3 separate regions of the Homo sapiens genome follow, and regions 2 and 3 are each linked to region 1. Evidence: fine-mapped expression QTL. A gene starts in region 1. Each other region holds a variant in brackets. All regions are shown on one strand. Distances are from middle to middle.

The links.
Region 2: its variant is fine-mapped to the expression of NCLN in whole blood (INTERVAL, PIP 0.90).
Region 3: its variant is fine-mapped to the expression of NCLN in spinal cord (GTEx, PIP above 0.99).

The regions. Positions count from the first base shown.
Region 1 is chr19:3,184,227-3,188,365 of GRCh38, forward strand. It overlaps NCLN (nicalin), which reads left to right and starts at 1,704. Exons shown (of 15, transcript NM_020170.4): 1 at 1,704-1,988. The coding sequence starts at 1,805. RefSeq lists enhancers at 782-1,664, 971-1,110 and a silencer at 1,621-2,190.
Region 2 is chr19:3,224,862-3,229,008 of GRCh38, forward strand. It overlaps CELF5 (CUGBP Elav-like family member 5), which reads left to right. Exons shown (of 13, transcript NM_021938.4): 1 at 1-137. Among named protein-coding and RNA genes, the nearest start is that of CELF5, 2.3 kb to the left of the region's middle. RefSeq lists enhancers at 2,991-3,531, 3,532-4,071. The variant C/T (reference allele first, on the strand shown) is at 2,243.
Region 3 is chr19:3,335,977-3,340,123 of GRCh38, forward strand. No RefSeq gene overlaps it. Among named protein-coding and RNA genes, the nearest start is that of NFIC, 29 kb to the right of the region's middle. The variant G/A (reference allele first, on the strand shown) is at 1,971.

The DNA of each region.
Region 1 (4,139 bases):
CCTCCTCCCTAGGTCTCCTCTAGGCTCCCACAGCTGCCTGTGTTCCCTGCATGACAGCTCTGCTTTATACTGGGCACAACTTTCCCTCTTTCTTCACTCATCTGCTCTGGCTCATCTTTTGAGTTTCAGCTTAAGTGTCACCTCCTCCAGGAAGCCTCCTCTGATTTCCTCTCCTCCCTAGGCCTCCTCTGGGCTTCTCCCAGCTGCCTTTGTGTCCTCTATCCCAGCTCCCATCACCCCTGGTCACACAATCCACCTCCTCCTTTGGACTTCGAGCTCCGTGTCGGTGGATAGTGTGGCTTTGCTGGGGTCCCGGCTGTGTCCCCAGCACCCACCACACGGCTGGCACACAGTAGGTGCTCAGTGACCCAGCAGCACACTCAGAAACTCCCTTTCTAGCCGGGCGCGGTAGCTCACGCCTGTAATTTACAGCTACTCAGGAGGCTGAGACACAGGAATTGCTTGAACCCAGGAGGTGGAGGTTGCGGTGAGCTGAGATCAAGCCACTGCACTCCAGCCTAGGTGACAGAGACTACATCTCAAAAACAAACAAACAAACAAACAAACAAACAGAATTCTCACATGCTGCTGGCAGGGAGAGTGCTTGATTCTTTATCATTATATCTGAGGAAACTGAGACTCTGAGAGGTGAAGCGACTTGCCCAAAGCCACACAGCTGGGAAATGGAGGAGTTGGGATTTGAGCCCAGGCTCTTAATCGGCACCAATGCCACTTCTCACTTGGGACAGAAAGGAAGCCCTGACTCCTTAGGCAGCTGTACGGAGCCTGGGATGATAACGTGCTGAGAGCCAGGGCTACTGTCTGCTGCACCCTGGGGCTCAGTCTCCCCATCTGTACAAAGGGACGTTCCTTAGGTACCTCCAGCCCTGAGACACTGGGTTTTAACTTTAAATTTCTGATGAACAACAAATACTTTTTTAGTATAAGTATGCCCCAAATATGAATAAAGATAAATATAAATACCTGCCACCGACCCCTGCACAAACCGCAGGTTCCAGACTACAAGTCCCACAACCCACTGCGGCCTCCCTTAGGAACTGACTATCATGACTTTCTATTTTTCATTCATTCATTCAAAAATGGTATAGGCCACCCGCCGTGCGCCAGGTCTTGTGCTAGATGCCGGGGATACATCATATGCACAAAACAGACAAAAGTTTTTGCCTTCGTGGAGTTTGACATCTACATCCTCGGGAGTTTTAAGTGATTTTTGTTTTTCTCAGCAATTTCTGCCAGGACGACTACAGTTCCCGTGACCCTTTGTGTGTTTGACGGGACTACAACTCCCAGAAGACCTAGCGCGCCAGGCAGGCACTTCCTTTTCTCTTTATCCCCAACTTCCTTCCAGGTCGCAAGGTCACGTCCTGTCCCCACCTTTCGCCCCTCACCCTAGCTCCCCCAACGCCAAAGACAAGGTTAAGAAAGTGATATCGCGAAATAGTTTTTTAAAGCATTTTATTGCATTTTATGACTTGGAGTTTATGTGAAACCTCAACGGTATTAGCCGAACAGCCTGCCGCACCTTCCGGGAGTTCCAGAGTGGGCCTACAACTCCCACAGGGCTCCGCGAGCGCCGGACGGACGGACTACAATTCCCGACAGGCAGCGCGGCTGGCGGGGCGGTTCGCCGCGGTGCCCACAGGACCTCAGGGCGAGTGCGGGCTGCCCCGCGCGGCGCCCGCAGGACCCCGGCGGCTACCCATGCCGAGGTGAGTCCGCGGGAGCCGCCGCCGCCGCCGTCCCGTCCCAGCTGCCGCCCCGCGCGGCCCCGCCGCCGGCCAGGATGCTGGAGGAAGCGGGCGAGGTGCTGGAGAACATGCTGAAGGCGTCTTGTCTGCCGCTCGGCTTCATCGTCTTCCTGCCCGCTGTGCTGCTGCTGGTGGCGCCGCCGCTGCCTGCCGCCGACGCCGCGCACGAGTTCACCGTGTACCGCATGCAGCAGTACGACCTGCAGGGCCAGCCCTACGGTGCGTGTCCCCGGCCCACCCTCGGGGCTCCCCGGGCTCCCCGGCCACGCCACTCCGGCCCGGCGATCCCCAGGCCGATCCCTAGCTCCGGCCTGGGCTGCCCGACCCATGCTCAGGCCCCAGGCGAGGCAGAGCCCTGCCGCCCTGGACCCCCGGGCGCCCTGGAATCCCTGCTCTCCTTGCCTAGCGCCCAGGGACCCCCCGCGCTCGCTCCCACAGCCCCCGGCCCCTGCCTAGGTCTCCCTGCCCCGGAACCCATGGCCGGGCCAAGCGTCCCGCGTCCCTGGAGCCCTAAGTCCCCTCTCTCCTGTCCCCAGCTGGGCCGGCGTCTGCCTGCCTTGCCGAGTTTCTCCCTCCTGGGCCCCCTCCGCCCCTTAGGCTTCCTGGTCCGGGCTCACTTGAGCAGACGCTCCCGTCCTGACCTCCAGCTCCCAGGGTCCTGTTCTGGAGACCATCTGGTTGGTCTCTGGATTCACTGGGTCACGTCCGTGTTCCCAGGCCTCTCGCCTTTAGCTGACTGCGTTTGGAGTTAAAGGTCCCTGCACTGATTTCTGCCAGGCTGAGCCACCCGACGCGGTGGTCCAGCATTCCCCACCCCCTCCCACGGCCCTGGGTGCCAAGTGCATTTTGTCCAGTGCCCAAATTCAACTCCCCTGAATTTTCTCGCTCTAGTCACCGGCCCCCACGTCAAGGGCACATTTGTCCCCAGACCCCTGACGCTCTCTGGTCCCAGTTCGTGAGTCATGTTTCAGAATCTGCTAGCCCAGCTTCCCTGGTCTCCTCCCACGTCCCCAGTTCAGTCCACTCGCCTGGGGTTCCCTTTGACCCCCTTTCTGTCCCGCCTTTGATGCATACCCACGCCCTCAGCTCAGCCTCCTCACACCCACTTCCCAGAACCCCACTTGTTCCATCTTTCCAGGATTTCCTCTTCCCTTTCCAAATTCGCACCCCCTTGCCCTTGCATTCTGCAAGTCTCCCACTCAACAGCCTCGCCCCCTCCCGTCGTGGCCCTGACCCCAGTGTCTAGACCATTCCACATCCCCTTGTCTTTGCCTGGCTATAGCTGTCCCTGACATTCCAGAACCTGGTCCCTGGTTTTTCTTCTTTTCAGCCTGGCCCCTCAGGTCCCTGGAAGTCAAGGCCTGGCCTTCCCTGTGAAGGAGTCCCGTCCGCTTGTTCTCCTGGCCCCCTTAGTTCCCAGCCCGGATTCTCTTGGATTGGTCCCTCTCGTCACATCTCAGGCTCAACCTGAGGCGCGGGGACCCCCAGCTTCTGCCAGCCCTTGGGGAGCCCATCTCTGGAGATGGAACCAGACTTTGGCCTCAGGTCCCATTTTGCCCCAGAGTTACGATTTTTTTACTTAGAGCCATTGTTGTCAACCGAGGGGACGCTGGGTGATGTCTGGGGACATCTGTGGTTGTCACGACCACGGGTGCTCCTGGCATGGAGTGGGTGGAGGCCAGGGACGCTGCTCAATTCCCTGTAGTGCCCAGGACGGCCCCACCCCAGAGAACGATCCGGCCCTAATGTCCACAGTGTCCAGGGGAAGCGCCCTGGGGCCACAGTGGTGGTGTATAAACCCAAGGCCCAGGCTCTGGAGGGTGGGAGTGGAAGGCCAGAGGCTCCTCATGCAGTGACCGCGTTTTCCGTGCTGCTTGGGATTTTCCCGGGGGAAGGGTCCTGACGGGCACCATCCTGTAGAATCGCCTCCATCTTTGCTGCCTGGCACAGGAGCCAGCAGCCACAGGAGGCTGCCGAGCCCCCAAAGCGTGGCCTGTGCAACCGGGGGGCAGGATTTTCAGCGCTGCTTGAGGGTAATAAACGCAAGTAGCCACGCGTGCCTGCGGCTCTCATAGCGGCTTCCGTGGGGTTTCCAGGGCAGTCTGCACCCCAAAGACCCCACTCCTAGAGCTCGAGATACCCTGTTCACACTCTTGGCATCTCCTGCCTGGTCCTCCAGCTCACCCGGCCTCCCTCCAGCCCCCCGGGCAGGTGTGATCTGGTGGCTGCTACACTGTCCCTGGGCAGGTGTGGGCCCCCTTTCTCTCCCCAAGAACCCACCCAGGGAATGCATGTTGGCGGCTCCCTACACTGTCCCTGGGCAGATGTGGGCCCCCTTTCTCTCCCCGCAAGTCCGCCCAGGGAATGCAT
Region 2 (4,147 bases), 41 kb after region 1:
CCTGGACGCCATCAAACTCTTCGTGGGCCAGATCCCGCGGCACCTGGACGAGAAGGACCTCAAGCCGCTCTTCGAGCAGTTCGGCCGCATCTACGAGCTCACGGTGCTCAAAGACCCCTACACGGGGATGCACAAAGGTGGGCGCCCGGCCCCCTCCCCCCTCTCCCCCTCCCTCCGCCTCCCACCCCACCTTCCGGCATCTTCTCTCCCCCATCACCATCCCTCCTCTGCTCACCTCCCTCCTCTGCCTGCCTCTGCCGGAGCATCGGTTCTTACCCCCTCCCTCCCACCCACCCCTCCTCCCCTCTCTGGGGGTGCAGCTGACAGATCCGAGCGGGCCCCCTCCCCTCCTCCGCCCCCTCTCCCTCCCTCCCCACCTTCCGGCATCTCCTCTCTCTCTCCCTCTCTCTCTCCCTCTCTCTCTCCCTTTCTCTTCTCTCCCATCTCCCTCGACCTCTCATCCTTCCCCCCACAGCACCCTCTCTCTCCCTCCCTCCCTCCCTCACCCTTCCATCCCCCAGACCCCCACCCCTTCCTCCCTCCCTCACCCCACTCTTTCCTGCCCGTTTGCCAGGGGAGCCTCGGGAACGCCGGCACCCCTCCCTGCCCCCCCACCCCCATTCATTCAGCCTCCCCAGGCCCCGTCGGGGAAGTTTGCACCTGCGGACTCCATTGCTTTGGTTATTTTCACAAAGCCAGGCCGGCGGGGCAGGTCCGGCCGCGGGGGACACGGATGCCCAGGACCCCAGGCTAATCGGTAACTACAAAGGAAGACGGGTTGGGGGCGCCCGGCTCGGGGGGACGCGCCCGCCTCGCCTGCCTCGGGTGGCGGAGAGGCTCCCGTCGCTGCCCACCCCCTGGCCCCACCACCTCCGCGTGGATCAGCATTCTCTCCTCCATTTCTCTGCCCTCCCCCTCCCCCGCCTCCACCTTGGGCTCAAGTTGAAACTGGCCGAGCCTCTTAGCAATGTGTTGGGGTCTCAGGCCCAAGACAATGAGCTTGGACGTGTCCATCTGGGCAGAGCCCAAATTCTGGGGTGGACAGGGAGGAGGAGGGAGGCGTGGGCGGCCTCAGGCCTGTCTGCCTCCCTCCCACTGGATTCTCCCTCCGATGGCATCCCGGGTGGGGGTGTCCGGCAATTGTATCCCCAGCCCTTGGTTCCCATCATGGGCCCAGCGTCTGAATTGGGGTGGCTTTGACAGCCTTCCGGTCAGGTGTTGGGGACTGGGGGTGCCACTTCAAAGGCCTTGTGCTGGACACCCCCGGCCCTCCCCCTCCCATCCTCCAGGAAGACCCTGGAGAGGCCTTGGGGAAGGACCGGGGCCCATGACCTATTTTACACCCACTTTTTCCCCAGCGCTGCGTGCCCGGTAAGCATGAATGCATGTTTATTGAATGAATGAATTGAATGAATGAATGAATGAATGAATGAATGAATGAAGGGGTTCAAGAAGGCCCTAGGGAGGGTCTGGTGAGATGGGGCCCAGGCCTGTCACTTCAGCTAGACCCTCCAGCTGGTTATCTTGAGGGAGGAAAGAAACCCCTCCCCATTCCCCATCTCTTTTCAAAACCAACCATCACACACACACACACACACACACACACACACACACAAAATTGGGCCTGAAAAATCTAACTCCTCCATGTGGCCTAGGAGGGCAGAGGGGCTCCCATGCGGCCCCCATAAGTCAATATCTGGAGTCCAGAGGTGATAGGTGGGCTTTTCCCACACGCCCCCACCCCTGGGTACACCCAAAGCACCCATTTCTAGAAAGATTCCCGTGGGAATGGGGGAGTCCACATGGCCCCCCAAACGGTTGCATTGAAAGGCCGCTGGTTGAGCTCTAGGTCGGAGAGACAGGTGGGGGTGCAGGGACTGGAGCATCCTGGTGACTCTTCTTCATCTTTTTTTTTTTTTCCTTCTTATTTTTAAATCTCTGGGAAACCTGGGCACGGGAGAAGTGAGGGGTGAAGGAGGGGCTGGGGCTGGGTTTTCACCTGGCCCTGAGCCTCAGTTTCCCTGCTGTCAACAGAGCAGGACCATGACGCATCCCCAGTTCTTTTTTTACAGGTTGGAGAATGTTGGGGTCCCTGGGGTACCTCGGGGGTATTTCCCATTTGCGGGCTTTCCTTGGAGGGTGAGAATTGAGAAGCCGTGTGCACGACAGCCGGCAATCACCCTCCACTTTTTAGGGGTCCCAGGTCCGTCTGTGTGTGAGATACAGGGGCTTCACCTCGTGT[C/T]GAAAATGGGTCCAGTACCCTCGGGGAAGTGAATCCCCACCTGCGTGGGGCCTGGCTGGACTTCACCTGGTCTTTGCCTGCAGGTGCTTGGCACGAAGGGGTGGGGGGGTGTCTTCAGAATCAGCATCTGTGATCCAGGTTTGCGTTTGGGGCTCAGCTGTGTGACTTCTGGCTAGTGACTGCCCCTCTCTGGGCCCTCTCTGGGCCTTGGCTGAAGGGAGGTGGAATGGTGAATGGGAAGTCAGGATTTTTGGGGAGAGGAGTGAGTTCAGACACCTGCCACCAACATGACCTTATTAGGGCTGTTTCTGGGAGCCCTGGCGTGGTTTAGTGTGCCTGTTCAGAGTGGCAGGGCCTTGGGGATATGGACCCCAGGCCTGGAGAGAAATCCCTTTCCCTGGATGCCCGGCGGGGCCCATGAGACTGGGCACAGGAGATCTGTAAGGAGTAGAGTGGGGTGGGATGAGAACACCCTGGAGGTGCACCCGGCTCCTGGTACAAGCCCGGAGGGGGTCAGCTGGTACCACCTCTAGCCCTTCCTTGGTGTCCAGGCTGCAGGGACTTGTTTGATTTCCCCATGGAACCCATCGCCATGGAGGTGGGCTCCGAGTGACAGCGCATTTCTGGGAAACTGAGGGCTTGAGAGACATACCCTGGGTCCCACATTTACCGGAGCTAGGCCCCCATTACCCCCCCTGCCTTCCTCCCAGGCCAGGAGAAGCAGCTGTGCCTGTATCTGTGTGACATAGGGGTGACAGGTTCCCCAAAGCCAAGAGTGAGGCCCCCAGAGATGGTGCTGGGGATGGAGGGGCCCGTGACACCTGACAGCCACAGCTGGCCTGGCCGAAGGTGGCGTGGGGGCAGCCAGATTCCTAGAGGCCGTGCTGAGACTCAGAGAAAGGCAGGAGGCCTCATCCAGGAGCGGGGCAGGGGTAGGGGGAGAGGGATGCGTCGAGGTGGTCTTCCGAAAGAGGGCAGGCCCTGGGGCGCTGGGTTTGTTTTTAAGAGAGAGAGAGAGAGAGAGATGAGGACACAGAGAGAGAGAGAGAGACACGCAGGGAAAGAGAGACAGAGAGACCCACAGAGAGACAGAGACAGAGAAACACAGACAGGGAGGGGGCTGCAGAGAGATGCAGGCCCACAGGAAGACCACAAGCCTGCTCCTGCCAGAACTCCGCATCCAGAGAGCGGGGACCTCCCCCAGGAAGGACCCCCACCCCAGGCCAGGGGCTCAGGCCAAGAACTGGAGGCTGGGATTGGGGCTCCCGCTGGCCCCCCTGCAGTTCCTGCCCCGGGGACCCTCCCTCCAAGGCAGGCACCTCTGGAGCTGTGGCTGCCCCTGTCTATGGATGGTGGCTGCCTGGGTGCCCACCCTGCCAGGGGAAGGTGCCCACGGTGGTACTGGTCCGCCGCTGCCACTGGGCCCCCCGTTTATGGTAATCGCATATACATTTGCATGTTAATGACAATATTTGTCTTAAAGCGGAGGTTGCGCTGGGGGACGGTGCAGGTGGGGGGGGGGCCCGGCGGGGGCCCGGGTGGGGGCCCGCGGTTTCCATGGGAGCACCAGCTGCCGGCTCGACTCGGGAGGGGGGGAGGAGGAGGCTGTAGCAGGCTGAGCTCTGAGGCGTGAGATTCCGCGTGTGACGCACCAGCTCCAGGGAGAAGGCGGGCTGGGCGGCCTGGCGGGGGGACCGCGGGAGCAGTTGGCACCCCTGGTGGTGGCGGGGACAGCGGCAGGGGGCTGGGGGTGGCTGGCAGGGTTGGCCGGCGTGTGTGTGTGTGTGTGTGTGTGTGTGTGTGTGTGTGTGTACGCGGGCGCGCGCCTGGGAAGGACTCCTGCCGGGGTGCTGTGTGGCTTCAAGCTGAGCGCGCCCCTCTCTGTGCCTCGTTTTCCCCTGCTGC
Region 3 (4,147 bases), 150 kb after region 1:
AGAGACGCCCATGCCTGGGAAGAGCAAGTCAGCAACTTGGCCCAGAAGGAGACTTTGACAGCGAGGAGGGCTGCATTTGAATTTCAGCTCTGTCACTTTTTTTGCAGGTGACTGAGCAGGTCACTCCTTTTCTCTGGGCCTCAGTTTCCCCCTCTGGAAAAATGGGAATAATGAAGCACCCTCCTGGCCGGTTTCGCAATGCTCAAATGCAATATGGTTGTGCTGAGTGCAAAGCGTGGTCCTGAGAGGGCACTCAATACACATGAACGATTCAGCCCTAAGTTCTCGAAATATGTTCAAGGTACCCGCTGCGGGTCTAGCTCTGTCCTAGACACAGGAGATCCAGCAGCAAACAAAAGTGACACTGACACCTGTCCTTCTCGAGGGTTTGGGACTCCAGGGAGAGACACAAACCGTGAATTAAAATGTTAACGTTCAAGAAGGATGAATGCTATAAAGAGAAATGAAACTATCGTTAGATCTTATTATTGTTGTGACTGTTACTGTTGATACCCAATTGATCGTGATTATAGCCCTGATTCCAGCTTCCACAGTTATTGGAGGTATGCAATTATTTAGCACCAACTGTGTACCAGGCTCCAAATACCTATAGCCCCACAAAATCATTTCCCAGAAGAGAAACCAAGGTCTCAGGTCTGTCCAAGATTGTGAGCTGGTTGTGCAGGGCAGGCCTGGGAGTGGATCTGCCAGATGGCACGATTCCCGGACCTGCCCCCACCTCCCAGGGGGAGCTGGCATCCTCCCAGCTGGACCTGGCCCCCCCTTGGAGCTTCCCCAACCTGGGGATACAGAAGGGCCCCCACGGGGAGGGAGGCAGCCAGGGCAGGCAGTGGCACAGAGCAAGGAGGGAGCAGGGCGTCTGCCACCCGCCCCCACGGCTGCCTGGGAAACGCCACGGCCTAATCCTGGCTCAAGAGGACACGTTGTACCAGAGATTATATAAACCGACCTCTCCCTTTGTTTGTTTAATTCTTTCAGGCTTTTTCCCTCATCCTTCTCTCTTTAATCGCTCTGCCAACAGGGCTGGGGGTGGGGTGCTCCGGGCTAGGCCTCTTCCAGGAGGGAGGGGGCTGCATACCCAGCACCCCCCACTCTGGTCATACCCCTACCTGGTTTCCCAGCCACCCAGGCCCGCTCCTCCCCCAGTCACACACACCAAGTCCTGCCGGTGGCAGGGGTGTGGGGCTGGACAGGCTTGGCCAGTGGAGTGAGTCTGAGAGGCCAAGGCCAAGGGCACTGAGTCAGGCTCGGACTCTGCTGGGCCCCTAGGATGTGGCCTCTCCACTTGGCACTCAGCTTCCTCTTCCAAAAAAATGGGATCCCTGTGGTCCCAACCCCCAGGTTGTTGAGAACACGCCCATGCAAGGAGTGAGCATGGCCCATGGTGGATGCCGGGTGAGAGCCGCTGCCTGCTCCCAGCCCACACTACAGACACCCAGGGAACAGTTTCGCCCTCAGACTGGCCCTGGAGCACCGTGACTGTGGTGGCCAATTGGGCCTCCGAGATGTCCACGATGCCTGGTGGGTGCTCTGATGTGGAACACTGGGCACCATCACCCAGAGAGGGCAACCAGGGGTGTCTGGCTTTGTGCTCACCCACCGCTGACCCCGAGCCTGGCCCTGGCCCTCACCAAGACCCAGTATTTCCATCTGTGTCCTGGGGAGGCCAACACGAACCTCCCCACCATCAGGGCAGTCCACCCACAGAGGGGCCTGGGTTCCCATCCTGACCCCCTCCTTTACCACCTCTGCCACCCTGTGCTGCTTGGTTGCTCTGTGCCTCAGTTTCTCCATCTGTAAAGTGGGGATCATCATAGCAGTCAGACCCCCCAAGAGGATTAATCGTGTTAATCCTTATAATGCATTTATTCTTAATTTATATTACTTTTTTTTTGTAGAGATGGGCTTTTCCCATATTGCCCAAGCTGGTCTGGAACTCCTGGGCTCAC[G/A]TGATCCACCTGCCTCGGCCTCCCAAAGTGCTGTGATTACAGGCATGAGCCACCACATCTAGCTATGCATTTTAGAACGGGCCCTCACGTATATTAACATGAAAGTATCTGCTAACTAAAAGAAAATAACAGCAACAGAAATAAGTAAAGAAATGGCCAGTTGCAGTGGCTCACGCCTGTAATCCCAGCACTTTGGGAGGCCGAGGCAGGTGGATCACCTAAGGTCAGGAGTTCGAGACCAGCCTGACCACTATGGTGAAACCCCGTCTCTACTAAAAATACAAAAATTAGCTGGGTGTGGTGGCGTGCACCTGTAGTCCCAGCTACTCGGGAGGCTGAGACAGGAGAATTGCTTGAACCCGGGAGGCAGAGGTTGCAGTGAGCTGACATCGCACCACTGCACTCCAGCCTGGGCGACAAAGTGAGACTCAGTCTCAAAAAAAAAAAAAAAATTAAAATTAAAAAAAAAAGTAAAGAAAGAATCCAGGCCCATTGCACACATGGGAAACTGAAGTTGATGTTCCCAAAGCAAGTCAGAGGCAGGGCTGGGAGCTGAGAAATCAGCTGGGAACCTCTCACCCTACACCTCCCTGGAGCCCAGTGGAGGGAGGCTGGGGGCAGGGGACAGAGAACTGAGGTCATGGTGCCAGGTCCCAAGGGGCCCAGGCTCACGTTCCTGCCTGATGGCTGCAAGCTCCCAAACATCCCACTCTGAGCCTCTCCTTCCCTTCTCTGTACGACAAGCCCCAGGGTGGCACAGGGTGGGCGGGGTGTTGGGGTGCCCGGCCACTCCCAGCCCTTTACATAACCTGCGGCACAGCAGGAAATCAAAGTGCCAACAACTGCCTCCTCAGTAACCGACTTCCTGTCGTTACCCACCCACCTTGGGCACCAGCTGCCTGCTCCCTACCTCCAGTGGCAGAGGGGTCCCATCCCTGACCCCAGGGTTTCCTCCCCAAGGAAGGGCCCCCGTACCCTAGGCTGCTCCATCATGCGACCCTGAGCCAGTGTCCAGCCAGCTCTGGCCTCAGTTCCTCCATCCAGATGTGTCCCTGGGCTGCCAGGACCGTCACCCTGCTCCTTTCGGCCACTGGCTGGGAGACTGCATACTGGCTGCCCCAGACCTGAGGCTGGAGGTCAGAGGGCAAAGGGCAAAGGCCAAGGAATTCCCTTTTTTTTTTTTTTTCTGTGACAGAGTCTCGCTCTGTTGTCCAGGCTGGAGTGCAGTGGCACTATCTTGGCTCACTGCAACCTCAGCTCCCAGGTTCAAGCAATTCTCCTGCCTCAGCCTCCCTAGTAGCTGGGATTACAGGCATGTGCCACCATCCCTGGCTAATTTTTTTTTTTTTTTTTTTGTATTTTTAGTAGAGACGGGGTTTCACCATGTTGGCCAGGCTGGTCTTGAACTCCCGACCTCAACTGATTTACCTACCTTGGCCTCCCAAAGTCTTAGGATTACAGGTGTGAGCCACCACACCTGGCTGGAATTCCTTTTTTTAATTTATTTATTTTATTAATTTATTTATTTATTTATTTTGAGACAGAGTATCACTCTGTTGCCCAGGCTGGAGTGCAGTGGCGTGATCTCGGCTCATTGCAACCTCTGTCCCCCAGGTTCAAGCGATTCTCCTGCCCCAGCCTCCCGAGTAACTGAGATTGCAAGTGCACGCCACCATGCCCGGCTAACTTTTGTATTTTTAGTAGAGACGGGGTTTCACCATGTTGGCCAGGCTGGTCTCGAACTCCTGGCCTCAGGTGATCCACCCACCTTGGCCTCCCAAAGTGCTGGGATTACAGGCATGAGCCACCGCACCGGCCCAGAATTTCCTTTTTAGAGCGAGAGAAGCAGGAGTTGCCTCTCCCATTGAGGGAGGGAGACTCTGGTTCTTCAGGGCTTTTCAAAGCTGTGGGTAGGCGGTAGAGGGCGCCCCCCACCCAGTGGTGCAAAGAGGAGACCCCAGCCCTGCTCTGGAAGGGAGTGAGGGATTGGGGGGAAGGTCTCTGGGGCAAACAGCACTTAGTGACAGCCACAGTCATATGACTGTCCGCATTTTACAGATAGGGAAACTGAGGCATGAAGCAAGGCCGCCATCTGCCCAAGGTCCCGTGGTCTGTAAGTGGTAGAGCCAAGATTTGAACCTCTGAAGACAGGGGTGTTGGTGGAGGTGTCAGGGAAT